Linked DNA regions of Homo sapiens: regions 1, 3 and 4 are each linked to region 2. The links come from fine-mapping of genetic effects on gene expression. A gene starts in region 2. Each other region holds a variant in brackets. All regions are shown on one strand. Distances are between the middles of the regions. Region 1 overlaps BLM (BLM RecQ like helicase). Region 2 holds the start of FURIN (furin, paired basic amino acid cleaving enzyme). Region 3 has its middle 38 kb from the start of FURIN. Region 4 overlaps BLM (BLM RecQ like helicase).

What was found. PIP is the estimated chance that this variant, and not a neighbour inherited with it, causes the effect.
Region 1: its variant is fine-mapped to the expression of FURIN in blood mononuclear cells (TOPMed, PIP above 0.99). The same link has a PIP of 0.9 or more in monocytes and whole blood.
Region 3: its variant is fine-mapped to the expression of FURIN in whole blood (INTERVAL, PIP 0.97).
Region 4: its variant is fine-mapped to the expression of FURIN in whole blood (TOPMed, PIP 0.97).

Annotation. Positions count from the first base shown.
Region 1 is chr15:90,804,839-90,812,838 of GRCh38, reverse strand. It overlaps BLM (BLM RecQ like helicase), which reads right to left. Exons shown (of 22, transcript NM_000057.4): 20 at 3,580-3,702; 21 at 1,433-1,634. Among named protein-coding and RNA genes, the nearest start is that of FURIN, 60 kb to the left of the region's middle. The variant C/T (reference allele first, on the strand shown) is at 4,139.
Region 2 is chr15:90,864,769-90,872,979 of GRCh38, reverse strand. It overlaps FURIN (furin, paired basic amino acid cleaving enzyme), which reads right to left and starts at 4,392. Exons shown (of 16, transcript NM_002569.4): 1 at 4,269-4,392. RefSeq lists enhancers at 161-210, 471-660, 2,927-3,221, 3,159-3,268, 3,007-3,301 and 2 more and silencers at 761-1,400, 1,441-1,650.
Region 3 is chr15:90,826,343-90,834,553 of GRCh38, reverse strand. No RefSeq gene overlaps it. Among named protein-coding and RNA genes, the nearest start is that of FURIN, 38 kb to the left of the region's middle. RefSeq lists an enhancer at 4,375-4,464. The variant T/C (reference allele first, on the strand shown) is at 4,286.
Region 4 is chr15:90,792,103-90,800,102 of GRCh38, reverse strand. It overlaps BLM (BLM RecQ like helicase), which reads right to left. Exons shown (of 22, transcript NM_000057.4): 16 at 5,746-5,936; 17 at 1,766-1,913. Among named protein-coding and RNA genes, the nearest start is that of FURIN, 72 kb to the left of the region's middle. The variant G/A (reference allele first, on the strand shown) is at 3,411.

The DNA of each region.
Region 1 (8,000 bases), 60 kb after region 2:
TCGGTACTCTGGCAGGAGGATTAGCACATACAAGATTTTGTTTATGGACTTAACAAGAAAATGACAATTTGGTAATGTCTGCCTTCCTTTCTCTTTCCCCACTCAGTTCTTGTTTTTTATTACTCAGAAGGACAAGAGGTAGAAAAACTGCAAAAGAAAACACAACAGCTTGCAAAAGTTGACTGTGGACTTTTTTTTGGTTTCTTTTTTCTGCAAGCAACTCTGTTACAATATACAGTTACTTTGGGGTCAAGTTCTCAAGACTGATGGAATGGTCTCCCTCCTGCCAGGCCTAACCTACTAGCCAGAAGGCAGAGGGTGCCCTGGCAGAAAATCAAAAAGCGGCTGTCAGAAACAATGCAATTATGAAGAAAGAAGGAAACTGCCAAGATCATCACACATATCAGACCATGCTGTCTTTGTTGTTCCCCTGGTGTGCAGAAAGCGCCCAGAACAGACATGTCCCAGACGAGCGGCCCAGGAAAACATGGGAAGGGGAAGACAGAAGCCATTTACGCAACCCCTAAAGAGGCCTGGCTTGACTGAACTTTTGGTTTCTCTGTTGTGGCTTCTTCTTGCTACCCCTGCAAAGGCTGGGAGGTCGATTCTCCCAGGTGTTAATGAAAGGCAGGGAGTGTGCACGTGCTTCAAGGTGGAGATCCATGGGATTCTGCAGCAATAAAAGCAGCGGAGCAAGTACTGACAGAATAGTAAAAGCCACGAGGACACAAAACCCTTTGTTATTTATTCAGCTAGTGTATGATTTATAGTATTGTAGGTGGAAAAGTCTCTTAAGAAGAACAATCATCCCAAACAGGCAAACAAATATCTAAGGGAAGATCAACATGGAAGACATCTTTGCAAACAAGAAACATTAGTCAGGCTGAGTGCGGTGGCTCACGTCTGTAATCCAGCACTTTGGGGAGACCAAAGTGGGCTGATCACTTGAGCTCAGGAGTTTGAGACCAGCCTGGGCAACATGGGGAAACTCCATCTGTACAAAAAATACAAAAATTAGCCAGGAGTGATGGTATACACCTGGAGTCCCAGCTACTCAGGAGGCTGAGGTGGGAGGATCACTTGAGTACAGGAGGCAGAGGTTGCAGTGAGCCGAGATTGTGCCACTGCACTCTAGCCTGGGCAACAGAGTCAGACTTTGTCCTCAAATTAAAAAAAGAAAGAAAACTTTAGTCATAACTATTAGTCAGTAGATGTTTTAAACATCTGAAGCAAATATTTTTTGTTGTTTCTTGAAGCAAATATTTTTGTTTTGGATCAAACCTTAATTGTCACTCCATTAACAACTGTCATTCCATTAGCAATATTTAATAATGGCTTATTTTAATAAATCCTTCAAAGCAAGGCAGAGCTGTTGCACTTTTGTCCTTTCTTCCCTTGTTCCCTATATTGAAAAAGATGTCACAAAACATACCCCTTTGCCTTGGAACCACTGGAAGCAGTTTTTCTCCTCTTAGACCTTTGGGAGGCTGGCATCTTTTTCCTCTTCCTTTCATTTCTGGTTTTACTTGCAAAGTAGTGGGAAGATACGGGTATTTCCTCGTCGAGCTCCTCAGCGGCACTTCTTCCGGGGCCTCTGCTGCTGGACAGGCTTATCCCTGGGGAACTGTCTTCAGCTACAAATGGAAAATGCAGATGTTTACAGGTGATGTCGCACTGGTCCACGTGTTTTTAGTGTATATGAAGAGACACGCTGCAGGGGCCCATTTTAGCAGATACCTAGCTGCTTCCCTGCCATATGGATTCAACAATTCAGCAAGAACCAAACCTTTTTTTACTGCACAAAGCCCCAAAGTGTTCAATGGCAATTCATTTTTAACAAAAGAGAATCAGAATTCATTAAAAAAATTTGTGATAGTCTTGAAGTTAACTAGAGACATGAGGTTTAGCTCATACTGTCGCATATGGCCTGTGTTCCTGTTGTTGATTGGGCAGTTAGTTCTGGTAGGCAATTCAAAAAGTATCAACTGCTATAAAGATGGCAGGCAATTTTACTTATTTTAAATGTGCTGAAAAAATCAGCTCAATATAAGGGAAACAAACGGTCCTGTATCTCATCTTTGAACAATAGTTTCTTAGTAAATGAACATAAGAAAATTCTAGATCCTATTTTACTCTTTACAGACAAAAAAACTTGTCTTTGCACAATATGGCTGAACATGTCACATATTATGCGGGAGGTGAGACCGCATGAAAGCACACATTTGCAAAGAAGATGGTAATTTCCATAAGTATTTGCATCCCAAGGCACCCAAAAAGCATGAAACCTCCCTATAGATAGCTCACACGGGGACCCAGTCTCCATTTCCTGGCTGGTCTGCCTTGTCCTACAGGCCACCCTACAGGAGCAGCATGGAGGGCACAGGACTCCACCATGGCTGCTCCAACCCTGGCTCACTGTCAAAATGTATTCGGAACAAGGCTTTTAATGGACTAATTACCATATAGAAGAATTTAGGAGAACCTGACCAGGTGTGGTGGCTCATGCCTGTAACCCCAGCACTTCAGGAGGCTGAGGCAGGTGGATCACTTGAGGTCGTAAGTTCAAGACCAGCCTGGCCAACATAGTGAAACCCCAACTCTACCAAAAAAATACAAAAATAAGTCAGGTGTGGTGGTGCATGCCTGTAGTCTCAGCTACTGGGGAGGCTGAGGTGGGATAATTGCTTGAATCTGGGAGGCATAGTGAGCCAAGATTGTGCCACTGAACTCCAGCCTGGAGTGAGACTCTGTCAAAAAAAAAAAAAGCGACTAGGTAAAGAGAGAACTTGAACTATCTCATCCTGCTCATCATTTCCATCATCCTTGGGAAGACCCCCACACTGCCTGTCTGGAAGCAGGAAGAACACTGAACCGGGCCTGTCTGTTGTGTCCTATTACGTGGTGATGTTATCAGAGGGCAGAAGACTTCTGTGCTCTCAATATTTCCTACAACAAAATGCTTTGTTGTTCTCATTTCCCCCAGGTCAATGATTTCTAAAGCTGTAATGATGATGAAGCTCATGATTAGAAGTGCCACAGGACAGGCCTAACGTGACTCCGGGAACGTCTGATAATGATGCACTCAGGCAGGTTCTATCAATGACTAACAATAATAACATTCTAGCTGCATGCTCATTTCTCCAAAACATTTAAACACTAGTCTTAAATTTTATCTTTAGACATGTTTGTCAGATAACATGTTCCTTCCTTGGTGGAGGAACCTGATTCACAAAGAGGCTATTGGTGGCCTGCTAGAGACCACACAGCATGACGTGGTGGCAGATCTGGAACTGGTACCCAGGGCTCTGATCCCTTGAGCACTTGCATTACGGGAACCAGCAACCCCTGGGCCCAAAGGTCCCCTTTTGGATCCTATGAGTAAGTTCAGAACTGGCACTCACAGGGGGCATAAGCACTAGTGTCCTCTCAGAGGTGACTGGCACACCACTGGGGGCTGACTTGGATGTCAGTGTGACGAGGTGTAGGAAGCATTCACACAACTGCATCCTTCTAATTCAGTGAGACGCGTCGCTTCACATTAAACAGGCTTTTAGAGAACACACATGGCTGTGTACTAACCTGGCGATGTCCATTCAGAGTATTTCTGTAATACTGAAATCACTTCCGCACCATATTTTTCCAGTTTGTCTTCAGTAACACCATCAATTTGAAGCAAAACCTCAGGATCAGAAGATAAAGATTCTGTGCAAAGGCATAAAATTAGGAATTTAAATTATCACCCATAGAAAACCCACTGAATTCAGGCTCATTCACGCATTCAGCACACGTCTGCTAAGTGCCAACTAACTGCAGGGTACTGGGAACACAGGCCAATTTTGTAAAAGGCAAAGTTAGCACCTCAGAGGCAGCAGACAGGCACAGAGGGCAGGAACCCACCATCCAATTCCAGCGGCATAGGCCAGGGCAGAGCAAGGGCAAGAGCCAGGGCAGGAGGAAGCTGAGGGTGGGACCTGTGCCATGTGCGTGGAGTGGAGCAGATCTGCTCTTGCCCACTGTTCCCATGGCCAGTACTCATCTAGCTGAGACTGGTGTGCCCTCTCTTTACTGAGAACGCTGCATTTCTATTTCCAGCTCCAGCCTCTTCTCTGCACTCCAGACTTGTACACCCCACCCTAGA[C/T]GGCATAACCAAATTGTTACTTCCTCCAGCACAAACTTTTCTTCCTCCACTCTTTCCCCATGTGGGTTGAGGCAACAAGCAGCCAGCTGAGTCCTCTGCATAGAGGTCGCATATCAGTCTTGCAGCTAGACAAGCCTGTCATTTAAAGGCCACCCTGGCTGCTGTTTAAGAACTTGACTGTAAAGGAAAGAGTAGAATCCGGGAGCCTGGTGGAAGCCATTGCAGGAGCGAGTGAGGATGGAGTGAACTGGAATGCAGTAGTGGAGACACAGTGAAGCAAGCTTGGGTGAGTTTTGGAGGCTGGCTCTGTAGGACTGACTGATGCACTGGCTCTGGGTAGTGAGGGAGTAACCATTCCTATGTATTTGAGCTGAGCAAAGAGTGGATTTCAAATCCTTTCCCATCTGTGATTTTCACATCATTCCCATGTTTAGAGGAAAAGCAAGAGACTGTGGACAGAACAGAAGGTTTATGAAGGGGGTTTAATGAAAGATAAAGTAGGAGAGGCAGGAAGAAATGTAGACCCTTGATAAAATGTATACTTTATCTGGGAAGCTGTTGTAGTTTTACTAGGTTTTGAAAGATTAAAATGTACATCACATTCACAGCTGGAGGTAAGGAGGACAGTTAAGAAACTACACTAATCGCCTAGAAATAACATATCATAAAATACCAAATTTCATCAATTCTAAGACACACACCTTTTCACAATTTAGCATTCCTGAGGTCAAGATATGTCTTAGAACTGCTGATGGCTAAATGGCAGCTGCCTTGCGGTTGTTACTGCTCATGCTTGTGAGAACTTAGTCATAGCTATTAGTACTGTCAGCATGTCAACAAAGTCACTGCACTGTTTGTACCTCATGTATTGAGTCTAACTGCCATGACATGTCTTCAAAAAGACTATACTGTGATTAGCATTAAAAAAGTGATTGTGAATGCAGAAAAGTTCTGAAACAGAGTAGCAGGGAATACATTTGGTATTAAGAAAAGCACTATCTGGCTGAGCGTGGTAGCTCATGCCTGTAATCCCAATACTTTGGGAGGCTGAGACAGGGCGGATTGCTTCAGCCTAAGAGTATGAGACCAGTCTGGGTAACAGTGAGGCCCTGTCTCTGCAAAAAAATAAAAAAGCTAGCCAAGCATGGTGGTACATGCCTGTAGTTCCAGCTACTCAGGAAGCTGGGGTAGGAGGATCACTTGAGCCCAGGAGGTCTAGGCTGCAGTGAGCTGTGTTCAACCACTGCACCCAGCCTGGGCGACAGAATAAGATCTTATCTCCAAAAAAACAAAACAAAGCAAAACAAAAAAAACCCAGGCACTATTTGTCTCTGAGGACACAGGCCCCCAATTCCATAGTTTCTCGCAAGTACAACCAAGTGCTTTACGTGACCTAAGAAAGAAGATGCCCAAAGTAGATGAGGCCGCACTACATTTTTGTTACTGAGAGATGTACAACCTTCTGTTGACACCTTCTGGTATCATCAAGAAACCACCACCTTCAAAACAGAACTGATAACAGAGATTTCGATTAAATCCTGGGGAAAATAGTGGAACACTCTGGAAATGCCTTATGGCTAATGAGAATGTTAGTGATGACATAGGGAAAAACAAAGACATGGACGACTCAGTCAAAAAGTGACTCAGAAGAGTCAGGCTTTGAATGTGAACTTTTATAAGTACCTACGGTAATTTGATTATATGTATTTTTCATACAGGCACACAGCTGTGGATAATAAAAATCAATGTCTAAATCAGTAAAACACAATTTTTTCAATAAAAGCACTGTGTCATAGTTTAATTAGCAGAATTTTTTCTTCCTTAATAGTCCATAAAGTAACAGTATCTTAATATAGTTGGCATCTTAGAGTCAGTGAAATATTGTAATGACCGATTATCGTAGGAGAGGGAATGAAGAAGAGAGAAGGTGATGATTATGAGATTTTATGAAGAAGAATATGGAAGGTAATATAGCCCAGCTGGCCAACTATATGAAGACGTTGTTTTCCAGGAACTCTACTACTGAAATTCTGGGTTGGGCTATCTGCCCATGGAAATAACTCAGACCAGTAAGTATTTATTAACTAAAGACATAGCAGTGTGCTAGATCCAGATTCAAAGAAGCATAAAACATAATCTCTTCATAAGGAAACTAGCTCTTCATTGCAGACTTTTTTTTTTTTTTTTTTTGAGATGGAGTCTCGCTCTGTCGCCCAGGCTGGAGGGCAGTGGCACGATCTTGGCTCACTGCAACCTCCACCTCCTGGGTTCAACCAATTCTCCTGCCTCAGGTTCCCAAGTAGCCGGGATTACAAGCGCCCGCCACCACGCCTGGCTAATTTTTGTATTCTTAGTAGAGACGGGGTTTTACCATGTTGGCCAGGCTAGTCTCGAACTCCTGACCTCAGGCAATCCGTCCACCTCAGCCTCCCAAAGTGCAGGGATTACAGGCGTGAGCCACGGCCCCCAGCCCATTACAATATTACAATTGGTCATTACAATATTTCATTGGATCTAAGATGCCAACTATATTAAGATACTGTTATTTTATGGACTATTAAGGAAGAAAAAATTCTGCTAATTAAACTATGACACAGTGCTTTTATTGAAAGAATTTTTTTTACTGATTTGGACATTGATTTTTATTATCCACAGCTCTGTGCCTATATGAAAAATACATATAATCAAAGTAAATGGTGGGCGCATGCCTGTAATCCCAGCTACTCGGGAGGTTGAGGCAGGAGAATCGTTTGAACCCAGGAGGCGGAGGTTGCAGATATTTGTACATAACACAGCTAAACACTACAAAGCAGGCAAATAATCAGCACAAATAATGAAGTAATGTCTCGTTTTAGAAATTACAATAATCCGGCCGGATGCGGTGGCTCATGCCTGTAATCCCAGCACTTTGGGAGGCTGAGGCAGGGGGATAACCTGAGGTCAGGAGTTCGAGACTAGCCTGGCCAACATGGTGAAACCCTGCCTCGCGGGTTCAAGTGATTCTCCTGCCTCAGTCTCCCAAGTAGCTGGGATTACAGGCACCCACCACCACACCTGGCTGATTTTTTGTATTTTTAGTAGAGACGGGTTTTGCCATCTTGGGCAGGCTGGTCTTGAACTCCTGACCTCATGATCCACCTGCCTTGGCCTCCCAAAGTGCTGTGATTACAGGCGTGAGCCACCGTGTCCGGCCAGATCATTGTAATTTCTAAAACCAGACATCACTTCATTATTTGTGCCGATTATTTGCCTGCCTTATAGTGTTTAGCTGTGTTATATACAAATATCTGCAACTTCTGCCTCCTGGGTTCAGGCTACTTTCCTGCCTCAACCTCCCGAGTAGCTGGGATTACAGGCATGCACCCACCATTTACTTTGATTATATGTATTTTTCATATAGGCACAGAGCTATAATTAAAATTATACCATATATAACATACATAGGGTACCATTATACCATATATAACAAAGTACTATATATATGTTAAAGAACATATTTTATCTTAAGAATGAGTTTAATATTCAATGGTCTTCAGATGTCCTTAAAAAAAAAAGAATAAGTTTCGGCCGCGCATGGTGGCTCACGCCTATAATCCCAGCACTTTGGGAGGCCGAGGTGGGTGGATCACCTGAGGTTGGGAGTTTGAGACCAGCCTGACCAACGTGGAGAAACCCTGTCTCTACTAAAAATACACAATTAGCCGGGCGTGGTGGCACATGCCTGTAATCCCAGCTACTTGGGAGGCTGAGGCAGAAGAATCGCTTGAACCTGGGAGGCGGAGGTTGTGATGAGCTGAGATCGCGCCACTGCACTCCAGCCTGGGCAATAAGAGTGAAACTCCGTCTCAAAAACAAACAAAAA
Region 2 (8,211 bases):
GTTCTTGGGCAAAGCCCTTTTCTCCAGCACCAGAACCTCCTGACACAGAGAGCCACTCTGGGCCACTCAAATTGCGCCTCACCCCAGGACCGACTGCTGTTTCCCAGACACTGGGGGTCTGGCTCTGACACAGCCACAGAGCAGGCCACGGGAGGGCCACTCGGACACCCAATCAGTCTCTCCCTCTAGCAGAGACACCACGCGGGGTCCTGTTACCAGCCCTGGGAGGCTCCCGTGAATTTATCGCTCCCAGTCCCTGCCCACTATTTGCTGGATGATCTTAACAAGTCACTTCCTCTCCCTGGGCCTCAGTTTCCTTGGTGGTAAAAACTGCTGGACCAGCGGCTTTCAAACTTTTTAAAAAGCCACAGAATCCTTTTTAAAAATCAAATGCTCCGTAGAAGCCCAATATAGGAAATAGTAAAACGAGGGCTGCCCTGCTTGAGAAGAGGTCAGGCTTGGCTAATCTCCTATGCTGTGTCCACACCTGCTCAGCACCCGCCCTCACCAGGCCATATCACCCGGGTTCTCCTCGCACTTCCCAAGTCAGAATAGGAATCCCAACACTCTCCGGTGGATGAGGGTCTGCACCCCAGGGGCCAGGGGGTAGAGGATGATGGGAAAGCGGGTTCTGACCAGACAAGTGACTGCCGTCAGACCTGTCTGGCAAGCAGGCCGCCCCTTGGTCCAGCCACACAGCGGGGGCACAGGGGCCTCGGCCAGGCCGCGGCAGAAGGCAGCCCAGGGACCTACCTGCGCCGGCCGCCGGCGCCCGCGGATCCCGCACCCGAGTCCTGGCCGCACAGGTGTGCGGGCGGGGGCGAGGCCCAAGCGAAGGAGCCCCCGCCTCGCCCCCGGCCGCTCCTCCCCTCCCCGGGCGGAACGCAGGCCCTCCTCGGCCGCGGAGTGGGCGAGCCGGCGGCAGCCCCGGTGGCGGCGGGGAGGCTGGAGCACCCGGCGCCTGCGGAATTTTCTCCCCATCCCGCCCCCAGCAGGGGCCCCGCAGGCGCTTCCTGAGGTCAGAGGGCTCGCCCTGGCCCCACGCGGAAAAGTACCAGCCACGGCCGGGGGGCCGAGACGGGCCCGGCGCGCTCAGGTGGGCTGCGGAGCGCCCTGTCTGCTCCCGGCAGCTCCACCCTCGGGGCCGGCCCCGGGGCCAGTTCCGGAAAGCCGGCGGGCAGCCGGGCCCCGGGGGACCCGGGTCAGGGCTGCACCGGCGCCAGTGCCCCGACCCTCCCCGGCCCGAGCACCCGGGCCGCGGAGCCCGCTCCTGGGGCAGAGCTCCACGGCCCGGCCCGGCCGGCTCCCCTCGGGCCCGGCTCCCAGACGCGCTTGCCTTCCCCGGGCCCCGGGCCCCGCGCCCTCGCTACTTACCCTGGGGAGCCCTGGCGGGGAAACTTTTCCAGGCGACCGCCGCGGCGGCTCGGGCGCCCCTCGGCCGCCCATGCCGCCCGGGCCCGACTGCGGGCCCGCGTTCCCAGCGCCGTGGGCCCCAGCGCGTCCGGCCCCGCGCGGCGGCCCTGCGGGGCCTTCTGGGGCGCCCGCTGCCTCCGGCTCCTGGTAGGGGCAGGTAGGAAGTGGGGCAGGCGATCCCAAAGTCCTCGCGGCCGCCCGGCGCGTCCCTCAGGCCCCGCTGCCGTGCCCCCGCCCCCGGGCTCGGCTCTTCGCCCCGCGAGCTCCCCGGGAAGACGGCCGCGGAGACCCGAACTCGGAACCAAAGGGAAAGGCTTGGGGGAGGCACTCCGAGCCCTGCCTCAGCCGGACTCTTGGGGGACTGGCCCTCTCCGTCCCCCGCTTCCCCACTCCTGGGCGACGAATTTGAGCCTGACCGGGTTAAGTGCCCAGGGACGGCGGACCTGGGGTCCTCCACTCCCAGGTCGAGGGAGGACTGCACGGCGGCAGGACCAGCCTCCTCTTGGCCTACTGTTAGAGGAGTCACGACTTCGTCTGCATTTGTATAGACAGGTGGATATATGAGCAGAAGTAGCCCACCTCCTTTTAATATTTTTAGCTTTTTTTTCTTTTTAGACACCAACCGCTTGCCAGGCACCAGGCCAGTCACTTTACATTATCTCCTTCTTATGTACATGATTTAATCCACATAATCCTTTCAGGCTGAGATTATTAATCCCATTTTACAGATAAGGAAACTGAGGCGCACAACGTTTAAATAATTTGCGCAAAGTCCCACAACCAGCAGACCTCAGATCCTGCAAGAGACTGGGGTGTTTGGCAGAGCCTGAATCCAAGCTACTTGCAATATACCAGCCGGAGCCTCTCCCTCCCTGGGCCCTAGAAAACGTTTGTGCTACTTGGCTGAGGCCGACGCTGCTTGAGCTGAGAAAGAAAAGAAGGAAAATGTGGCCAGGAGCTTCCCAGGCTGGGTTATTCCAAGGTCGCAGAGTAGCCTGTGCCCATCTCTTCTCGCTCCCTGTGAGATAACCTGGCTGCACAGGATCAGCCTGTGGCCTCCTTAACACAGGTTCCCGGGTAATGGGAAAAAAAAAATCCACTGAGTGTTTTCTATGAGCCAGGCACCATTGAGAGCTCTTTTCCTGTGTCAACCCGTTTTATCCTCACCACATGCCCCATGAGGTGGGTACAGTACATTTTCCTTTAAGTACCTTTGATGTATCACTGTCTGCATTTTATAGAGGAGGAAACTGAGGCCCAGAGAGGTTAAATCATGATAATTCTTAAGGCAACTGGTGAAAAATCAATCAGCAAACCGGTTCAAATCCCTGGGGCACTATTTTTTGCTGGGACACCTTAGACAAGTTAATTTCTCAGGGACTTCCTCAATTTACCCCTCTATAAAATGGAGATAATATTTAGTGAATGGGATCAGGTACGATTCGGGCACCTTTACAAACACTGCAAGAACTGGAAACTGGAGGAACAATGCTGGGTCCTCAAAGTTGAGCGGGAAGATAAGTCCAGTTGGCCTTGTCCCAAAGTGGGGACTTCCCCTCCGCCAAGGAACTAAGACTTGTAGGGGCCACACTGGGTAGCGCCAGCCACAGTTGGGAGAACAATACTCCAGCAGTCAGACTGAGGCAGGAAGTGACTCACGCTTCTTCCTTAGGCTGTGAGCAAGAGAACTCCATTGAGGGGAAACAGGGACAGGGCTGGCCCCACCTACCCACTTGTCCTCAGGCCTAGAAGAAAGGTCAGCCCAGAAAAATAGCAATACTTGCTGCTTCAGGTGCCCCACCCATCCTGGAGACTGGCCCCAGGGGAGCCCGCAGTGGGTCTTTGGAGGGGGAGGGGCTAGCCTAGGCTCAGATGACTGCCACCCAGGCAGAGGCGGTGGGAAGTGGAGCTTCCCAGTTTCTTCCAGCCAGCTTGCCTCTTCAATCTGCATAAGGCAAAATTCTTTAAAGTGGGTTCTCAGAGGTGCCTCCCTGAGAGGGAGGAATGAGGACAGGATTGGGCAGTTGAGCACCTCTCTCTGCTTCACCCAGAGTGTCTCACATTTTAGGGTTTCACATGAGATTGTATTTTACAACAATTCTGCTGCTAAAAAGAATTTGAAAGCCACTCTCTGTGAGACTTCTCTGGAAAAAAATCCCATTTGACCACAACTGGTGACTTCTGCCTTTATCTCATTGCAACAAGTCCTGTGGGCAGGTATTGTTCTCTTTATCACTCTCAACTGGCCCTGGAGCCCAGGTCTCCTGACCTGGGGCCCTAGGGGCCCAAGGTCCTCTGGATCCCACCTTACCAGTTTTACACAGCAGTTAGCAGGACTTGGGCATGTGACAGAAGTCTGGAGATGAGTGAGAGGAGCAGGGCCTGATGGGTAAGTGGGGGCTGTAAAGGGGCTCCATTTTCCCAGCAGGGCTCTGGGAGGAAGAGTCCAGCTAGGCCTCTCTTTATCCTTGATTTGGGGCTAATCCAGAGAGGCTCCTGAGAATCACATAGTCCTAAATCCACCCAGTCATCCTGACTCCAAGCACTCCTGTTGTCTCCTTGGGGTGCTCTGGGAGTCTTCTCTGAAATCTCTGGTCCACCTCAGGCACAGCAAATAAAGCCTTCGGCAGCAGCACCCACACCTAGTTGTAAGCAGAATGTCTACACAACATTCAGACGTGCATAGAAGGGTGCACAACAAAATTCCATTGGTGTTCTCTCCGAATGAAAGGGTCACATTTGCGATCTTTGTTTTCTTCTTTTTGCCTACCTGCATTTTTCAGGAATGTCTACAAGAACTCCTAAAATAATTAAACCTTTAAGTCAATGCAAAATCGAATAAAGCATGTCCATACTTCACCATCCAGCTCCAGAGCACCTGGGATTCATCCTGGCCGCTGCTGCTTCCCCGCCACTCACTGCAGCTGCAACAGTCAGGCTCCTATCCCTTCACAGGGCGGGGCCCTTCCAGTTCTGGCTAAACCACTTTGGGAAAACCTTCTTTATATGACAGGCAAACAGGGTGTCTGTGGGTGGGGGGAGGAGCTAAAAGTGATGTGGTGGTGACATATCTGGTCGCACTGGAACTGGATCCTAACATGGCCAGCCAGCCCTTCTCATTTTCCTCATTTATTGGGGTGGGTCTGCACTTACCTTCTGCCTGGCTTTGCTGCATCCCAGCCACTGGCTGACTTAATGACTTCCTTCCGCCAGCTCCAGCTCCTTGTGTTCTGCCTTGCCTTCCATGGCCAGCCAGTGCTGCCACAATTATGTACCTAATAAATGCTTTGGGTGCAGTCTCGCCTGGCAGACATTCATTGAGCAGCTGCTGAACGCTGGGCTCTGGTGCCCCATAGCTGGGTCCCTTAGAGCTTGTCCATAGGAAGCCAGAGACCACCTCTCTAGTAGGGTTGCATGGAGGTACCTGGGACACACCAGGGTCTTCCTCAGTCTGCGACCTCCCTGGCCTTCCAGCTTCAACAAGCCTGCTGCCCATCCTTCTCTCTCTCGATTCAGAAATGTGAATCACTCAATCCTCATAGTTTTTTTTGTTTGTTTGTTTTATGGGTTTGTTTTTTTTTTTTCTAGACAAGAGTCTCGCTCTGTTGCCCAGGCTGGAATGCAATGGCCTGATCACAGCTCACTGCAACCTCTGCCTTCTGGGTTCAGGCGATTCTCATGCTTCAGCCTCCCAAGTAGCTGGGATTACAGGCTTACGCCACTCGTATTTTTTTTTTTTTTTTTTGTATTTTTAGTAGAGATGGGGTTTTGCCATGTTGGCCAGGCTGGTCTCGCACTCCTGACCTTAAGTGATACACCCACCTCGGCCTCCCTAAGTGCTGGGATTATTAGGCGTGAGCCACCACGCCCGGTCCCCTTGTTGAGTTTTCAATCAGTTTGTCATCCTGAACAGGGTTTCTCAACCTTGGCATTATCAACATCTTGGGTCGGATAATTCTCTGTAGGGGACACTGCACTCTACATTGCAGGATGTTCAGTCGCATCCCTAGTCACTAAACATTAGCTGCTAGTAGCATTCCCGCTCCCATGATGACAACCAAAAAGATCTCCAGGTATTGCCAAATGTCCCTTGGGAGACAAAAATCTCTCCCAGCAAAGAACCACTGTCGCAGAATGAGGAGTGGGAACGTCACAGGATGGTGGTTAGTGTGCCAGGGTTCGAGGCAGCAAGAGTTGTCTGCTGGGAACTAAGCTCTGAGACAGCTAGCAGTGAGGGAGAAAACTCCCAAACTTGAAACTGCCCAGTATGCCAGCACAACAATGGGCCGTTTAGTGATCAGGGCAAACAATCATGCATCCTCATGACATCTGAGATCACTTTCCATCGTGTTGGTGATAATGCTGAATCAAGGAAAGGATCAATCATGTTGATCATACTCCATTTTCTAAGGTGGGGAGGTGTGTGAGCCCTTGTAGCATTAAAGACGTATTTGGAAAACAGATCAGTGCTTGCTTGGGGAAGGGGGCAGGGAGGGGCGGGAGGAAACTTTTGGGAATGATGGACATGTTCATTATCTTGATTGTGGTGATGGTTTCATGGGTGTGTCCATATATCAAAACATATCAAGTTGTACACTTTAAATCCATGCCGTTTATAGTGTGTCAGTTATACCTCAGCAAAGCTGTTTTGAAGATGTGTTGTTTAAAGTTTTAGTGCTTGAAGGGCATTATTTTGAAAATTCACTACTGTGGAGTAGTCCATTTCTTTGCTGAATAAATAAGGGGTCACTGTAGTACTTAAAAAGAAAACAGGAAGAAAAAACAAACAGAAGAAGAAGAAGAAAAGCGATCATGGGCTGTAAGGTCGTCCTAGGCAGGGAAGGAAAGGAATGGCGTGAAGAGTTGGCTCAGTCGCCCCTGAGTGTGGCCCGGAGAGCCTGTCCTCTGGCCTACGGCAGGCCCCAGAGAGTCTTTCCGTTGACTGATGCCATCAAATCAACATGTCTGGAACGGTATTATCAGGGACTTGGGAAAAATAGAATGACAAATGTGCTGGCTGCCAGGAAAGGAACAGATGAGTCTGGAAATTATAGGCTCCTCCACAAACTTTAATCCCTAAAACAAACATTGCTGGGGAAAAAGTCAGTTAATACCTGGAGGAGTGTGAGTGCTGTCCTTCAATGGGGCACGGCACACCTGGGAGCAGAGAGCATTTACAGAAGCCAGACACCGTGTGCCAACCTGTGTCAACAGGCTCATGCTCAAGGGGCTGCACGTGGCAGCAGGGAGCACTGCGAGCGGCAGTGAGGGGCCCTCTCTGACGGTGCAGATGCTTTTTGGCTGATGGAGACCTCTACGGAGGTTCTCAGGAGCCCCTCAGCGAGGCGGGTGAGCAAGGAGAGGGGCTGTGATAGCGATGAGTTATATGTGAAAAGAAAAACTGCTTTTGTGGAGGTTGATTGTGCACTGGGCATTTCATTCACTCATTCCTCAGATACTCATTGAGTGCCTGCTGGGTGCAGGACCTCTTCCAGTGCTTCAGTTATAGCGAGGGAAGCAGGCAGTTCACAGGTGAATAAGCCAGTTTATGAGAGAAGTTCAGATCATCCTAAGAGCTCTGGAAGAAAATGATAAAGAAGGTAATGTGGGAGTGCCTGGGGAAGCGGGAGGGCTGCTATCCCTGGGGTGGTCAGGGAAGACCTCTGGGAGGAGGTGATGTTTGAGCTGAGGCTGAAAAAAGAGGCAAAAGTGTAAAGATCTGGAGGAAGAGTGTCCCAGGCAGAGGGAGAGGCAAGGACATGGGCCTGGGGGCATGAGCTTATGCACTTGGGGAGCAGACACTTCTTGGAGCATGGCCGAGAGATGAGATGAGAGGTAGGTAACGGGCTGGATCACAGAGCACTTGCCAAGCTGGGTCCAGATGTTGAATTTAATTATCAGAGCAATGGGCTCTGGATTCTCAAAATTCTTTTGGAAATTTGACTGATTTACCCTTTAATAAAAATTATTTATTTATTTATTTAGAGATGGAGTCTTGCTCTGTCGTCCAGGCTGGAGTGCAGTGGCGCAATCTCGGCTCACTGCAACCTCCACCTCCCTGGCTCAAGCAATTCCCCTGCCTCAGCCTCCCGAGTAGCTGGGATTACAGGCACACACCACCACACCCGGCTAATTTTTTTGTATTTTTAGTAGAGACAGGGTTTCACCATGTTGGCCAGACTGGTCTCGAACTCCTGACCTCAGTCAGTCCACCTGCCTCAGCCTCCCAAAGTGCTGGGATTACAGGCGTGAGCCACCGCGCCCAGCCATTTTATTTTTATATTTTTAAATTTAATTTAAAAGATGGGCTCTCACTCTGTTGCCCAGACTGGCCTCAAGCAATCCTCCTGCCTCCCCCTCCAGAGGTGCTGGGATTACAGGCGTGAGCCACCGTGCCCGGCAAATTTACCCTTTTTAAAGGCTCCTCTGACTACCATGGGGAGTAGAGATATGGGGGTTCGTGTGGGAACCCACCACAGCCCGACGCAGGAGGCACCATAGGTGACCCTCCTGATGTGAAATGTAGGGGACTGGCTTGGGGGAGTCCAGTGACTTTTTTTTTTTTTGAGACAGTGTCACTCTTGTCACCCAGGCTGGAGTGCAGTGGTGCGGTCTCAGCTCACTGCAGCCTCTGCCTCAGCCTCCCCGAGTAGCTGGGATTAGAGGCATGTGCTACCACGCCCAGCTAATTTTTTGTATTTTTAGTAGAGACGGGTTTTCATTTGCTACGTTGGCCAGGCTGGTCTCAAACTCCTGACTTCAAGTGAACCACCTGCCTCGGCCTCCCAGAGTGCTGGG
Region 3 (8,211 bases), 38 kb after region 2:
GTGTTTGAGACAAGCCTGGCCAACATGGTGAAACCCCATCTCTACTGAAAATACAAAAAATTAGCCGAGAATGGTGGCACGTGCCTGTAGTTCCAGCTACTCGGGAGGCTGAGGCAAGAGAATTGCTTGAACCTGGGAGGCGGAGGTTGCAGTGAGCCGAGATCGCACCATTGCACTCCAGCCTGGGCAACAAGAGTGAAACTCTGTCTCAGAACGAACAAACAAACAAACAAATCCAACTTTTGTTCCTTTGCAGTTCCGCCCTCACCTTCCCATAACTTGTCCCACTCAGCTCCCAGTCATTTGCTAACCACTGTCTGAGCACTGAGCCTATTCATTTCTCCATTTTTCCTCTCCTCAACCTTCTGGCCCCTCTTTGAGTTCATATTTTGCATGTCTCATGTGCATGTAATAAGCCTGTTCTTTTTTCTCTTGTTAACTTGATTTTTGTAATAGAGGTGCCGGTCATGACCCTTTACATGGGGAGAAAAGGGATCACCCTCCTTCTGCCCCTGCAGTTCAGAGAAAGGTAAGTCCAAACAATTTTAGATTAGATTGCACCGTACCAGTTCTATTTTAAACTAAATATATTCTATTTTACTTGAGTTTAACAGAAAAAAAAAAAAAGGCAGATCAGGTGCTATGGTTCACACCTGTAATCCCAGCACTTTGGGAGAACAAGGTGAGAGGATCCCAGGAGCTTGAGACCAGCCTGGGCAACATAGTGAGACCCCTGTCTCTACAAAAAAATTTTTAAAAACTAGCTGGGTGTCAGCTGCGTGTGGTGGTTCACACCTGTAATCCCGGCACTTTGGGAGGCCGAGCCAGGCAGATCACGAGGTCGGGAGTTCGAGACCAGCCTGGCCAATATGGTGAAACCCCGTCTCCACTAAAAATACAAAAAATTAGCTGGGCATGGTGGTGCGCACCTGTAGTCCCAGCTACTCAGGAGGCTGAAGCAGAAGAATCGCTTGAACCCGGGAGGCGGAGGTTGCGGTGAGCCGAGATTGTGCCACTGGACTCCAGCCTGGGTGACAGAGCCAGACTCCATCTCGAAACAAACAAACAAACAAACAAACAAACAGACAAACTAGCTGGGTGTGGGAACATGTGCCGCCTGTAATCCTAGCTACTCAGGAGGCTGAGGCGGAAGGATCACTTAAGCCCAGAAGTTCAGAGCTGCAGTGAGCCATGATTGTGCCACTGCACTCCAATCTGGGCAACAGAGTGAGACCCTGTATCTGAAAAAAAAAAAAAAAAAAGGCAAAAAAACCCAGAAAACTTGCTGAATCTTAGATAAATATTTACTTTCCACAAGAGCTATTACTTCATAATGAATTCCTCATGGTTAAGAAAAAAGATTATGAAATTAATTAAGACATTGGAGTCTTGGGGTAAAAACTCAGATGTTTCACTTTGAGCAAGATCAGTCATTTCTTGCGATAAAAAAGGCGACCACTCCCCTCAAACATCCTCCCTCTTCCTCTTGCCCACCCCAGCTCTGATTTTGATGCTGATATTTTTACTTTGTCAAGGTTTATTTATTTTTATTTTTATTTTATTTTATTTATTTATTTTTGAGACAGAGTCTAGCTCTGTCACCCAGGCTGGAGTGCAGTGGCGTGATCTCAGCTCACTGCAACCTCTGCCTCCCAGGTTCAGTCTGGTCTCAAACTCCTGACCTCAGGTGATCCACCTGCCTTGGCCTCCCAAAGTGCTGGGATTACAGGTGTGAGCCACCACGCTCAGATTTTGTCAAGGTTTGTAACACTTTTACTTTAAAACCATAATTCTCCCAGTATTTAGTCTTTTTTTTTTTCTTTTTTGAGAAGGAGTTTCACTCTTTCTGCCTGCAACTTCTGCCTCCCGGGTTCAAGTGATTCTCTTGCTTCAGCCTCCTGAGTAGCTGAGATTACAGGCGCACGCCACCACGCCCAGCTAATTTTGTATTTTTAGTAGAGATGGGGTTTCACCATGTTGGCCAGGCTGGTCTTGAACTCCTGACCTCCAGTAATCCACCCACCTCAGCCTCCCAAAGTGCTGGAATTATAGGCGTGAGCCACCATGTCTGGCCGCCTTTTTTTTTTTTTTTTTTTTGAGATGGGGTCTTGCTCTGTCGCTCAGGCTGGAGTGCAATGGTGTGATCTCAGCTTACTCTAACCTCTGCCTCCCGGATTCAAGTGATTCTCCCTACTCAACCACCCCAGTAGCTGGGATTACAGGCACTGGCCATCATGCCTGGCTAATTTTTGTATTTTTGTACACAGAGTTTCGCCATGTTGTCCAGGCTGGTCTCAAACTCCTGAGCTCAAGTGATCCACCCATCCTGGCCTCTCAAAATGTTGGGATTACAGGCATGAGCCACCATGCCTGGCTATCAGCATTTAGCCTTATAATGAAATTGAAATAGATTCCATTCCATTCTTTTTTTTTTTTTTTTTTTTTGAAGCAGAGTTTTGCTCTTGTTGCCCAGCCTGGAGTGCAGTGGTGTGATCTTGGTTCACTGCAACCTCTGCCTCCCGGGTTCAAGTGATTCTCCTGCCTCAGCCTCCCAAGTAGCTGGAATTACAGGCATGCACCACCACGCCTGGATAATTTTTGTATTTTTATTTTTAATGTATTTATTTATTTTTGAGATGGAGTTTTGCTCTTCTTGCCCAGGCTGGAGTGCAATGGCGCGATCTCCGCTCACGGCAACCCCTGCCTCTGGGGTTCAAGCGATTCTCCTGCCTCAGCCTCCTCAGTAGCTAGGATTACAGGCATGCGCCACCACGCCCGGCTAATTTTGCATTTTTAGTAGAGAGGGGGTTTCTCCATGTTGGTCAGGCTGGTCTTGAACTCCTGACCTCAGGTGATCTGCCCGCCTCAACCTCCCAAAGTGCTGGGATTACAGGCTTAAGCCACCACACCCGGCCTTCCATTCCATTCTTTAATGACATTTTGTCCAGGTGCCTGAAGAGTTTTTTCTTTATCCTTAAAGTTCAGTAACTTGGCCGGGCGCAGTGGCACATGCCTGTAATCCTAGCACTTTGGGAGGCCGAGGCGGGCTGATCACCTGAGGTCGGGAGTTCGAAACCTGCCTGACCAACATGGAGAAACCCTGTCTCTGCTAAAAATACAAAAATAGCTGGGCATGGTGGCACATGCTTGTAATCCCAGCTACTCGGGAGGCTGAGGCAGGAGAATCGCTTGAATCGGGGAGGCAGAGGTGGTGGTGAGCTGAGATCTTGCCATTGCACTCCAGCCTGGCAACAAGAGCGAAACTCTGTCTTGAAAAAAAAAAAAAAAAAAGTTCACTAACTCAGCCAGTATGTTCCTATGTTGGTCATTGTGAATTTGCTTCCCTGGAGTAGTCATGCCCTCGCAGTCTGTAGAGTTGGTTCTTCGTTTCAGGAAGACTTTCTCTAAATAGCTTTTTGTTTCAGTTGTTGGATAATCTACTTCAGGGAGTGCAGTCACCCTGATGTTGGAAGGTCTGGGACCCATAATGGTCATTTTCTCTCTAATTGTTTTAATTTGTCTTTTTCTCTAAATTCACTGCAATTATTTCAAGTTTCTCTCCCACACTATTCCCTTGCTTTTCAGATGCATGTACTATGTTGTAACTCTGTTTTTAGATGTGTCATGGTCCTGTTTTGGTTAATGCGTTTCCTCCCCTCTGCAGTTTCTTTGCATTTCCTGATATATATATTTTTTTTGTCATCTCTCCTTTTTTTCTTTTCTTTGAGACAGAGTCTCGCTCTGTCACCAAGGCTGGAGTGCAGTGGTGCAATCTTGGCTCACTGCAACCTCTGCCTCCTGGGTTCACACCATTCTCCTGCCTCAGCCTCCTGAGTAGCTGGGATTACAGGCGCCCGCCACCACACCCGCCTAATTTTTGTATTTTTAGTAGAAACAGGGTTTCACCATGTTGGCCAGGATGGTCTCAAACTCCTGGCCTCAGGTGATCTGTCCGCCTTGGCCTCCCAAAGTGTTGGGATTACAGGCGTGAGCCACCGTGCCTGGCCTGTCATCTCTTCTTTGTGCTCTTTTCATTCAACTTTTTTTTTTTTTTTTAAGAAATGGGGCTTCACAAGGTTGCCCAGGCTGGTCTCAAACCCCTGGGCTCAAGTGATCCTCCCACTTGGCCCCCCTAGCAGGTGGGCCTGACAGGCGCGCACCACTGCACCCGGCTCGTGCTTTTTATACCTGGTTCATATTCTCATTCACTTTTGTCTAGCGCGAAGCTATCAGTTCCAAGAAAGCCACTCAGGTCCTTGGCTCTGCTGGCTTTCAGCTGTGCCCC[T/C]GTGTGATTTCCTTCCCTTTCCTGGCACTTGCGTGTAGGGAGGCGTTGCAAGTTTTTTTCATCTTGCTCGGTTAGCTAACTCCTGACGTTTTACTTGTTCTGCTACGGGAACCTTCCTGTCTTCCCCGAAGAAGGGCAGTTTTGAGGCTGCATTGTTTTCAGTTGGGTAGCCTGAGTGCGCAGAGGTGGGTGGGAAAGTCCCCCCGGCTGAGGCCACCCTGCTGGGGGCCACAGGTCTTCTCTGTCCTGTCATCCCCTAAACATCCTGTGCCCAGCCTTCTGCCCTACTCCTCACCCCAGCAGCTGAACACGATAGCCTTGGAGGTCCCTTCTCACTCTGTCACCCAGACTGGAGTGCAGTGGCAAGATCTCGGCTCACTGCAACCTCCGCCTCCTGGGTGCAAGCAATTCTCCTGCCTCAGCCTCCTGAGTAGCTGGGACCACAAGCGTACCATCACAGCCAGCTCATTTTTGTATTTTTAGTAGAGATGGGGTTTCACCATGTTTGCCAGGATGGTCTTGGATTCCTGACCTCAGGTGATCCACCCACCTTGGCCTGTTGGCTCACTCTTTTCCCAAAAATTTGTCATTGTTGTGCATGTGGTCAGGTATTGGGGTTGGGGAGTTCGCCCCTCATTCTGCCTTCTAAAGTCTGAACTCCCCTCCTCAGGAGGCTCTGCAAAATGCCAATCTCCAGGGCCTGTCCACCCCAAGAGCAGAGGTCCGTGGGTCTGGGTGGGACCTCTCCCTCCCGCCCAAGTGATGCACCTGAGCAGGCTTGGGGTTGAGAAGTGCAGACTCATCCACCAGGAGCATTTGCATTTTACTCAAATTAAAGAAATGCAGCCCTGCTTATGTAAGTCTATATGGCACTGAAATTGAACAGTCCTGGAATGTCCAAGTGGGTGGGCGGACTTGATTATCAGCTTCCAGTGAGGGTCATTCTATTGGTGAGGCCTCGAGGCACAGAGAGGCGAAGTGACTTGCCCAAGGTCACCCAGCATGTCGGCAACAGGCAGGTTTGAAGAACTGGAAATGGTGACTCCAGACCTGGGGGCTGGGATCAGGGTGGCCCACTTCAGGGAGCAGGAAGGTCTTAAAAATTTAATTTTAATTTTTTTTTTTTTAAGACGGAGTCTTGCTCTGTCGCCCAGGCTGGAGTGCAGTGGCGCAATCTCAGCTCACTGCAACCTCCACCTTCTGGGTTCAAGTGATTCTCCTGCCTCAGTTTCCCAAGTAGCTGGGACTACAGGCATGTGCCACAACACCCTGCTAATTTTTTCTATTTTTAGTAGAGAAAGGGTTTCACCATGTTAGCAAGAATGTTCTCGATCCCCTGACCTCGTGATCTGCCCACCTCGGCCTCCCAAAGTGCTGAGATTATAGGCATAAGCCACTGCACCAGGCTAAATTTTAATATTTTTTTTTGAGACAGAGTTCACTCTGTCCCCCAGGCTGGAGTGCAGTGGCATGATCTCGGTTTGCTGCAACCTCCACTTCCTGGGTTCAAGCAATTCGCGTGCCTCAGCCTCTCGAGTAGCTGGGACTACAGGCATGTACCACCACGCTCGGCTAATTTTGTATTTTTAGTAGAGATAAGGTTTCACCATGTTGGCCAGGCTGGTCTCTAACTCCTGATCTCTAGTGATCCGCCGGCCTCGGCCTCCCCAAGTGCTGGGATTATAGGCGCGAGCCGCCGCACCTGGCCAGGAAAGTCTTTTAGTATGAGGAACCCATTATCATTTCCGGGCCTCACAGAAGAAATGGTTGTGGCCTTCCCATGGGAACTTTTGATCTTGAACCTCACGGAGGGAGAATGGCCAGACCAACGGCTCACTGCCACTCCCAGCCCTCCCAGGAGCAGTGACCTCTCCACCTCCCCTCGTCCCCGCCCCGCCCCCATCCACGCACGGTCCAGGCAGCAGTGTCCCAGCAGAGCTGAGCCCAGTGGTGAGTGTGGGCCGGGCAGCGGGTGGAGAGGTCCAGGTAAGGAAGCAGTATCAGAAAAGGTGGGGAGACTGGGATTAGGTCGGGTCAGGCCTTTCTGGGAGGATCCCACATCCATCCGGGGAAGAAGCTACAGGCTACTTGGGCCATGACTAGCAGCAAAGCTTGGCCCTCTGACCGGGACCCTGGAGGGCAGTTGGGCCAGGATGTCCTGCTGGGGCGCCCTGGGTGTCATCAACCCCTGGCGCTGTTCTCATCTTGCCCCACTTTGCAGTGATCTGGAGGGGCCAGCCTGGTGAACATCAGGCAGATCCTCATTCGTTTCATGGCCTTGGTGATTCAGCTGCTTTGGCTGTGAAAAGGGAAAAATTACTGGACCCCTCCGAATCCCCTGCGGTTGTGAGGATGAATTCGTGTGAAGAGCTGAGCTGAGATACAAAAATCGCAAGGCCGGGCGCGGTGGCTCACACCTGTAATCCCAGCACTTTAGGAGGCCTAGCTGGGTGGATCATTTGAGGCCAGGAGTTTGAGACCAGCCTGGACAACACAGTGAAACCCCCACCTCTACTAAAAATACAAAAATCAGCCAGGCGTGGTGGCGTGCACCTGTAATCCCAGCTACTTGAGAGGCTGAGGCAGGAGAATCACTTGAACCCGGGAGGCGGAGGTTGCAGTGAGCCGATATCATGCCACTGCACTCCAGCCTGGGACGACAGAGCGAGACTCCATCTCAAAAAAAAAAATGACTTGAACCCGGAAGGCAGAGCCTGGTGCACTCTAAACACAGGAGCTCAGGAACCGCGAGAGAGCTCAAAATAGATCCATGACACAAGGTGACAAAGATAGTATTGGAATTTTTTGGTGAGGATATGGGAAAAAGGATCCAGCTGTTCACCACAAAACTGAAATTTAATTTCTCTGGGACGTTTCTGCTCTTTCCTTGCTAAACTTCCCTCCTTCTCCTTTCCCGCCTCCCACCCGGCCCCAACATCCCCTCTATTGTCCAGCCCCAGCCTTCTGCTGGCACAGCCCTGACCAAAAGCGGGGTGTGGGGGGTTGCCCACAGCGGCCCCCAAGTGTCCCTGGGACGCGTGAATCACGACAAGGGTTACAGCTTGCCAGGCTCCCACTGCACACGAAGCACATTTGGACATTGCAGACTCTGCATCTCTGTGGCAAGGACTGCCACAACCCCCTTGGACCCAGGAACCCCCAGGAGGAAGCGCTAGTACCGGGTGTCAATGTGGCTACCCAGCGCCCGCTGCTTCTGAAGCTAACCTCGAATGCGTCGCCCACATCCATGGCTTCTCTTCTGGGCGCTTCACAGTAACCGTGGAGTAAGGTGGGTAAGTTACCGCTACTCATTTTCCTTGAAATCCCATTTCTCAGGTGAGAGAGAAAAGCTCAGAGAGGCCAAGGGCTCGGGGCAGCTGTGGTGCCACGCCCAGCCCTTTGGTCTGAACTGCCCCATAGACTGCATACAGGTCCCATTGTGTCCGGACTTGGTGGGTTCTTGGTCTCACTGACTTCAAGAATGAAATCGCAGACCTTCACGGTGAGTGCTGTAGCGAGTTCTACAGTTCTTAAAGGCGGCGTGGCCGGAGTTTGTTCCTGACGTTCGGATGTGTTCGGAGTTTCTTCCTTCTGATAGGTTCGTGGTGCGGCTGGCTCAGGAGTGAAGCTGCAGACCTTCGCCGTGAGTGTTACAGCTCCTAAGGCGGCGCGTACTGGAGTTGTTTGTTCCTCCCGGTGGGTTTTTAATCTCACTGGCTTCAAGAGTAAAGCTACAAACCTTCATGGTGAGTGCTACAGCTCATAAAGTCAGTGTGGACCCAAAGAGCAAGCAGCAGCCAGTTTTACTGCAAACAGCAAAGCTTGCATAGTGTGTAAGGCAACCACGGCTGGCTTCGGCAGCCCGCTTTTATTCTTTTATCTGGCCCCACCCGCATCCTGCTGATTGGTCCATTTTACAGAGAGCT
Region 4 (8,000 bases), 73 kb after region 2:
AAAAGCAGGGCCTCCCAAAAGAACTCAGTTGTCATAAATTGCCTCCCTGGGAAAAACCAGGGAAGGCTGACCCTTTTAAACAGAGATAAGACTTCACACCACACTTAAACAGACATTGTCATAAAAACTTTGTATCTCCCATCTGGTCTCCTAACAGTCCATCTGTCTTTCCTAACAGTCATTTGTTTTTCCATAAGTGCCCCCCTCCTTCTCCCCTTCCTCTATTAAGATGGTATATAAGCCCCACATTCTAACTGCCCCTTTGAACCACATTTTTCTGTGAACTCCTATCCACACATGACTAAATCTGTCTTTTCCCTTGCTAATCTGTTTTTTGTTGGTTTAATTTGCAGGCCCCATCACTGAACCTAAGAGGGTTGAGGAAAAGTTTTTCCTCTTTGACATGTCTTTAACTCTTAGTATTCTCAAATCTCGTGGCCATATGTCTTAATTTTTTTTTTTTTTTTTTTTTTTTTACAGGCATCTTATTTGGCATTCAGTGAGCATTTTAATCCAAAACTTTTATCTCTTCCACTCTAGGAAGTTTTCCTAGATCATTGGTTTGATAATTCCCTTTATTTTCTATTTCCAAAATTTTTGTCAGATTTTACATCTACTGAGGATTAATCCTTTCTATGCTTTCTCTATTTTCCATATATCATTTTGATCAGTTCCTAAATTTTCTTGACTTTATTTTCCAACCTCTCCACTAAATTTACTTTGTCAATCATTTAAAATTGACAGCTCTTTCTCATTTTTATTTCTTTTCCATTATTCAATTATTATTTAAGTATTTATTTTAAAAACTCTTTAAGACGATACTAAGGAGTCTTCTCTCCCCTCTCTCCCAAACTACTATTTTCAATTATTTCTATCACCCAGGGTCAAATATTCTATTTATTTGGTCTTCCTCTTTACTGTCCATTTCTTTCTTTTTTTGAGATGGAGTCTCACTCTGTTGCCAGGCTGGAGTGCAGTGGCGTGACCTCGGCTCACTGCAACCTCCACCTCCCAGGTTCAAGCGATTCTCCTGCCTCAGCCTCCCGAGTAGCTGGGATTACAGGTGCCCACCACCACACCTGGCTAATTTTTGTGTGTGTTTGTTTATTTATTATTTTTGAGACACAGTTTCACTCTTGTTGCCCAGGCTGGAGTGCAATGGTGCGATCTCAGCTCACTGCAGTCTTCACTTCCCGGGTTCTAGCGATTCTCCTGCCTCAGCCTCCCGAGTAGCTGGGATTACAGGTGCATGCCACCATGCCTGGCTAATTTTTTGTATTTTTAGTAGAGACAGGGTTTCACCATGTTGGCCAGGCTGATCTCAAACTCCTGATCTCAGGTGATCCGCCCGCCTCGGCCTCCCAAAGTGCTGGGATTACAGGTGTGAGCCACTGTGCTCAGCCCCTGAGAGATTTTTAAGGCACTAATCTGATAATAGTCTCTCTCCTATTCTCTATGCTGTTATGGGTCTAATCCTCATTTTATTTCCTTACTGACATTTTAATAGTTACATTCCACCCACTCAGATGAACTCGCATAAGCTTTATTATTTTCTTCTTTGTATGTGAAACCATCTCAACTTAGTGACATATACATTATATAAAACAGTATAATAATTGACTTTCTTTTGTTACTTAAAAGTTTTATTCAGAAACTCAAGTTTTATAAGAAAATAGACAAAAAGTTTTTCTATGTACTTGTAATAAATTCTTTAGATGTTCAATTTCAATTGAAGTAACTCAAACATTCAAAACAGATGACTTACCCAAGAAAATGTCGACCAGCATATTCATAGTAAATCTTCCAGAAGGACCTACATGTTTTATATTTCTCATTCCTTGTGATGAACTATGTTCTTGAACAAATCTTACAATACTTTTCACATCGTCAGTCACATCTCTTGTTTTATAATCCTATGAATAAAAAGAGAATACTTTCTGCTATAATTAAGGTAACAATGCCTAGATTACTAGGGTTTAATATTAACTATAGTAGATTCATCATAACCCATTTCCAGACCAATACCGAGACCAAAACCTACGGAAATTTCAAATGTTCATTCTTATCTAAGTTCTAGAACAACTACCACTCGATGTTGTTACTGTTTCACAGAGATACGTCTTGTCTTTCAACTACCTGATAGCACTCTGTGGGTAGAAACACATATATAACACACAGACACACACACAAACACACAATTTAAATCCTCCATGCCTCCTAGAATAGTGCTCTGTTACATACTGGGTGGGAACCTGTGGGGTGCCACGTAAATCCACGGATTCTAACCCCTCTGGGGTCTTTGGTGCCATAGTCAACGCTCTTTTCATCATCTCCTGCTAGTTTCCTTTCTCATTTCCTTCAGCTATCCCCAAACTTTGCCCACTTTTTAGAGTCCCCGTTACTAGATGACTTTTTGCCTTTCTCTCCCCTAGTTCTCTCTACCATCAATACTGACCACTCACAGGTGTAAAAAGCTGCATCATGCTTGGTGCTTCTGTGTATGCAGCCCTCCCTACCTTCTAATCCTTGTCATTTGCACACACCAATAACCTGGAGATGAACAGGTTTCTGGTCTTACACTAACAACTGCAAGTGATTCTGAGGCCCTATCTAGAGTCATCAAGAAAAAGTGCCCTGTCACTCCATTCCTATCTTAATTTTTTTTTTTTTTTTTTTTTTTTTTTTTTTGAGATGGAGTTTCGCTCGTCGCCCAGGCTGGAGTGCGATGGCGCAATCTTGGCTCCCTGCAACCTCCACCTCCCAGGTTCAAGCGATTCTCCTGCCTCAGCCTCCTGAGTAGCTGGGGTTACAGGCACCTGCCACCATGCCCGACTAATTTGTCTGTATTTTTAGTAGAGATGGGGTTTCACCACGTTGGCCAGGCTAGTCTTTAACTCCTGACCTCAGGTGATCCGCCGGCCTCAGCCTCCCAAAGTGCTGGGATTACAGGTGTGAGCCACTGCACCTGGCCATCTACCTTAATTCTTGGTGATTAGGTATACAGAGCTGATCCTCTTACTTTGGTCTTTTGGTTCTTGATCTCCTCTGCTCCAATGATCCTGTCCTCCACATACATCAGCCGCTCACACTTCCTACCTTAAGCTTACTAATAATGGCAACTCCTCCATTCTCAGACCACCACATCCTATCTTTCCAACTCATACCATGTGGTATTCTGACTCCAACAATCCCCTGGGAATGCCCATCTGCTGATCCTCAACCTCAGATGTCCTCCTAACTCAGCTGAAATTCCAGTCGATCATTATAATCACTACCTCTCATAGACCCTCAGCTCTCTTGCCCTTAGATCACTTCAACATATTACCTGGCAAAACATAATGGATCCAATTCTCCATCTCCATAGGTCCCTGTACCTATGTGGCTGAACTTGGCATTTTCACTGTCACTAC[G/A]TGGCCACAAAGCTCGAATGGACTGTTAATGCTGTAGGCAATCATTATCTTTATACTTCCCTAGCCTATCATTCCTCCATTCTCTCACAACAGAAGTCAGCAAACTATGGCCCAGGAGCTGGATGCCTGTTTTTGTGCATAAAGTTTTATTGGAACACAGCCATGGAAGATGACTAGAAAATTGGTGTATTTATTATTTATGTCTGCATTTAGACTACAATGGCAAAGCTGTGAGTCGTTGTGACAGAGACTATGGCTGCGAAGTGTACAATATTTATGCTGTGGCCCTTTAAAAGCAAGTTTACTGACCCCTGTCCTAGACAACTATTTCATACTTTCTCCTTTCTCTTCCGTCCCTTCTCTTATCCCGACTGTCAGCTGATGGCCATGCTTTAAATATCACCCATGTGCCACCAGTCTGTTTTCAGAATTTTTGAATCTTAATATGTAATTCAATATTAGATTCCCAATTTAGGTAACCCAAACCAAACTCCTGATCTTCTCTGCCAACCAGCCTTCTGCATCTTAGCCAAGGATAACTCCATCCTTCCAGTTACTCAGGCCTCCAGTTACTCTGGGACTCTAGCCCTCAACTGACTGCTCTGGCTCTCCATCACCTCTTCCCCTCACTGGCTCTTAATCCTGCTCAGCCACATGGGCTCCCTTGCCATCTCTCGAACACACCAGGCACACCCCCACCTTAGGGCCTTTGCTCTAGCCAAAGCTTCTTGCAGGAAAGCTCACATCCAGGGAGCTGCCAGCTAACTCCCTTCTTCAAGATTTTCCTCAGCTCCCATCTTCTCAGTTAGACTTCCAAGGACCACCCCGTCTAATACTGCATCCTGCACTCTACCCATTCCTCCTGTCTTTTTACTCTGCTGTGCCATTCACCACAGCTCTTATCCTTTCATGTATATTTATTGTGTATATTGTTTGTAACTGGCCTCCCTCTGCTAGAGTGTAAGCTCCACAAGGGCAGGGATTTTCATTTTGTTTAGTGATGTATCCCAAATTCCTACAACAGTGCCTGTTACACAGCCCAACAAATATCTGTTGAATGAGGGAACTGATAGCAATGTTTAAGGGATGGGGTGGGGTGGGAGGAGATGGCATGAATTTGCCAGTTCCACACTGAGAGAGACTACCCTCTGTTCTGCCCTGTGCTCTGTATTTTTTAACTATACTTACTGAGAGTACTAAACTTTTTTTTTTTTGATGGAGTTTCGCTCTTGTTGCCCAGGCTGGAGTGCAATGGCATGATCTTGGCTCACTGCAGCCTCCACCTACCAGGTTCAAGCGATTCTCCTGCCTCAGCTTCCCAAGTAGCTGGGATTACAGGCATGGGCCACCACAGCCGACCAATTTTGTATTTTTTTAGTAGAGACAAGGTTTCACCATGTTGGTCAAGCTGGTCTTGAACTCTTGACCTCAGGTGATCCTCCTGCCTCGGCCTCCCAAAGTGCTGGGATTACAGGCATGAGCCACTGCGCCAAGCCAGAGTGTTAAACTTCTATGAACACATGTATGTCGGTCTCCACTCCAGTCTATGAATTGGTCCATACCATGGTCACTTGTGGCTCTCCAGCATCTTGCACATATAAGTCTAATACTCCCAGATAGGTAAATAATACACCAAACGTGAAAATGCTCAGTAAGCAGTAGGTTACAGTAGACATTAAAATGTAGAATTACCAAGATAGGTAAAATAAGTACCTAATGACTGAATTTAACAACCTTCCAAGGGTATTTTAGGACAGATAATAGTGAATTTATCCACAAGCAGTTACTGTTATTCTTTATAGTTAAAAAAAAAGAGTAATGTAATTGATTTGAATTCAAACATACGGTACACTAGTTATTACTCTTTTGAGAATGAGATTTTTAGTATATTAATTAAATATTTAAAATATTAAATATTAATACGTCAATTTTAATATATTTAATTTAATCAATTAAATTTTTAATATAATGTATTATATTAATAACATTAATATATTAAATTTAAAATATTCTACCTGCCCATGTTGGATCTTTTTGGATGTTTGCATATTAATATTTCTAAAATATTCTGTAATCATCAGTGCACATATATAAACTCAATATTCTGGATATGCTGATGTCCATTATATTTTTTAACAGGGTTCTAATTATAAAGAAAAGATACCGCATGAAATTACTTTTTAAATGTTTCCATTCCAAATTACTACTGGAAGGAAGCTGTCTTTCCCCTGTTAATCTGTCGGAGACCACCTTTTGCAATCTAATTTGTATCTACATTTTTAAAGTAAGAGAAAAAAAATTTAATTATAAAGAATTTTAAAACTTCTTTTTTTACCTTTGTTTTACAGCAATTATCACAAGAAACATCTGGGTGTTTCTTACAAAAATCAGGATTAAATCCATTTTCACCAAAGTAGGCCAAAAGCTGTATTCTCCTGCATTCCGTTATATTTTCACAGTAATGTACCATGCTATACAAATTATTGAAGTGAGTTTCTCTTGTATGATGGTTTCCATCTTTTTCCACTAAAAGAGATGAAGACTATAGTAAGACATACTTATAGGGGAAAAATAGAGCATATCATAGAAATATTTAGAATAGATTCATATAACTTTAAATATTAAATAAGAAAATTACTGTTAACAGCATTGTCAACATGGCATTCTATATTATAATTAACTGAGTATTAATGTTCATCCTCAAGATTTTAGTACTATAGGAATAAATGTTAGGTTTTTTTTTTTCAAATCTTCATTATCCCCAATGATGATGGTTTGACTTATATTTGCTGTATTTATCAGTCGAGCATCCACCGAACTGAACATCCTGAGGAAGCAGAGCCTGAGATTACGGCAGTGGCCATGCACTTCTCTGAGTATCTGAGGTCAAAGTAGTTACACCAGTGGTTCCAAAATTGTGTGCCAACAAGCCCGGGGGTGCTGTGGTGAACTCACAGAGACAGAATATTTTACATGAAGGGAAACACAGCAATGCCTAACATCTGTTGAACATCACCCAAATTATTAGCTTGAGGTAGTTAATGGTATTAACATTAGATTGTGCTACATTCCTATTAGCAATATCTCATCTTTGCAAAGCTGGGTTTTTCGCAGTTGCTATGATAAAAAGAAGTATCTCAAGAAAATCAATGTGAAACAGGAAATGAGGGTGGCAGTGTCGGATTTGATTCCAATGTGTGAGAACAGCAGTGGCATACTTTCCATCAGTAAGCAACTGTTGTTACTTAAGAATTTTAACACCAGGTACGGTGGCTCACGCCTGTAATCCTAGCACTTTGGGAGGCCAAGGTGGGCGGATCACCTGAGGTCGGGAGCTTGAGACCAGCCTGGCCAACATGGCAAAACCCTGTCTCTGCTAAGAATACAAAAATTAGCTGGGTGTGGTGGTGCGAGCCTGTAATCCCTGCTAGTCGGGAGGCTGAGGCTGAGAATCGCTTGAACCCAGGAGGTGGAGGTTGTAGTGAGCTGAGATCGTGCCATCACACTCCAGCCTGGGTGACAAAAGCGCAACTCCGTCTCAAAAAAAAAAAAAAGAAAATAATTTTTAAAAAATATTATTTTTTTCTTCCAGTTTATGAGTATTTTTCCCCCAAATAGTTGCTGCTATCAGGACTTAAATATCTATTAAATTGTTTGGGCCTAAATTTTTTTTTTTTTTGGCCTCGGCCTCCCAAAGTGCTGGGATTACAGGTGTGAGCCACCATGCCTGGCCATGTTTGGGCCTAGCTTTAATATAGATTTTAAAAAAAACACAAATGGGCAAACCAAGTGTAAATATTTAATTTTCTTCACTGAGAATCACTTTGGTATAGTGCAAGGAACATGGACTTTGGAATCAGACGAACTTGGGTTCTGTCAGGGCTCTACCATTTACTAGTTCTGCATTTCATTTTCCTCCTCTGTAAAATGAGGAAAGCAAAGGTTTTATCTCTGAGGGTTATTGTGAAGATGAAATTAGTTGATGATACATGTAAGGCATTTAGAATGGCACATAGGAAGGGCTAAATAAACACTTATCTATAATAATTACCATTGTTATACTACTACTACAACGACTCTTATTGCTCCTGCCATATCAGTGATCCTGGGGAAAAGTTACAAAACCTTTCCGAAGCTCACTTTTTATGGGAGTACCTCTACATCACAAGTTAGTTGTTTTGAACAAATAAGGTAATGAGGTGATATATGCAGTGTTGGGCACAGTGCTTGGTAAGTGCCATTTCCTATGCACTGTACTTCTGCCAGAGTTAATTTAAAAGTGGTCTCGGCTGGGCATAGTGGCTCACGCCTGTAATCCCAGAACTTTGGGAGGCTGAGGCGGACAGATCACTGGAGGTCAGGAGTTCAAGACCAGCCTGGCCAACATGGTGAAACCCTGTCTCTACTAAAAATACAAAAATTAGCTGGGTGTGGTGGTGGGAGCCTGTAATCCCAGCTACTCAGGAGGCTGAGGCAGGAGAACTGCTTGCATCTGGGAGGCAGAGGTTGCAGTGGGCCGAGATCGTGCCATTGCATTCCAGCCTTTGCACTTCAGCCTAGGCAACAAGAGCGAGACTCCGTCTCAAAAAA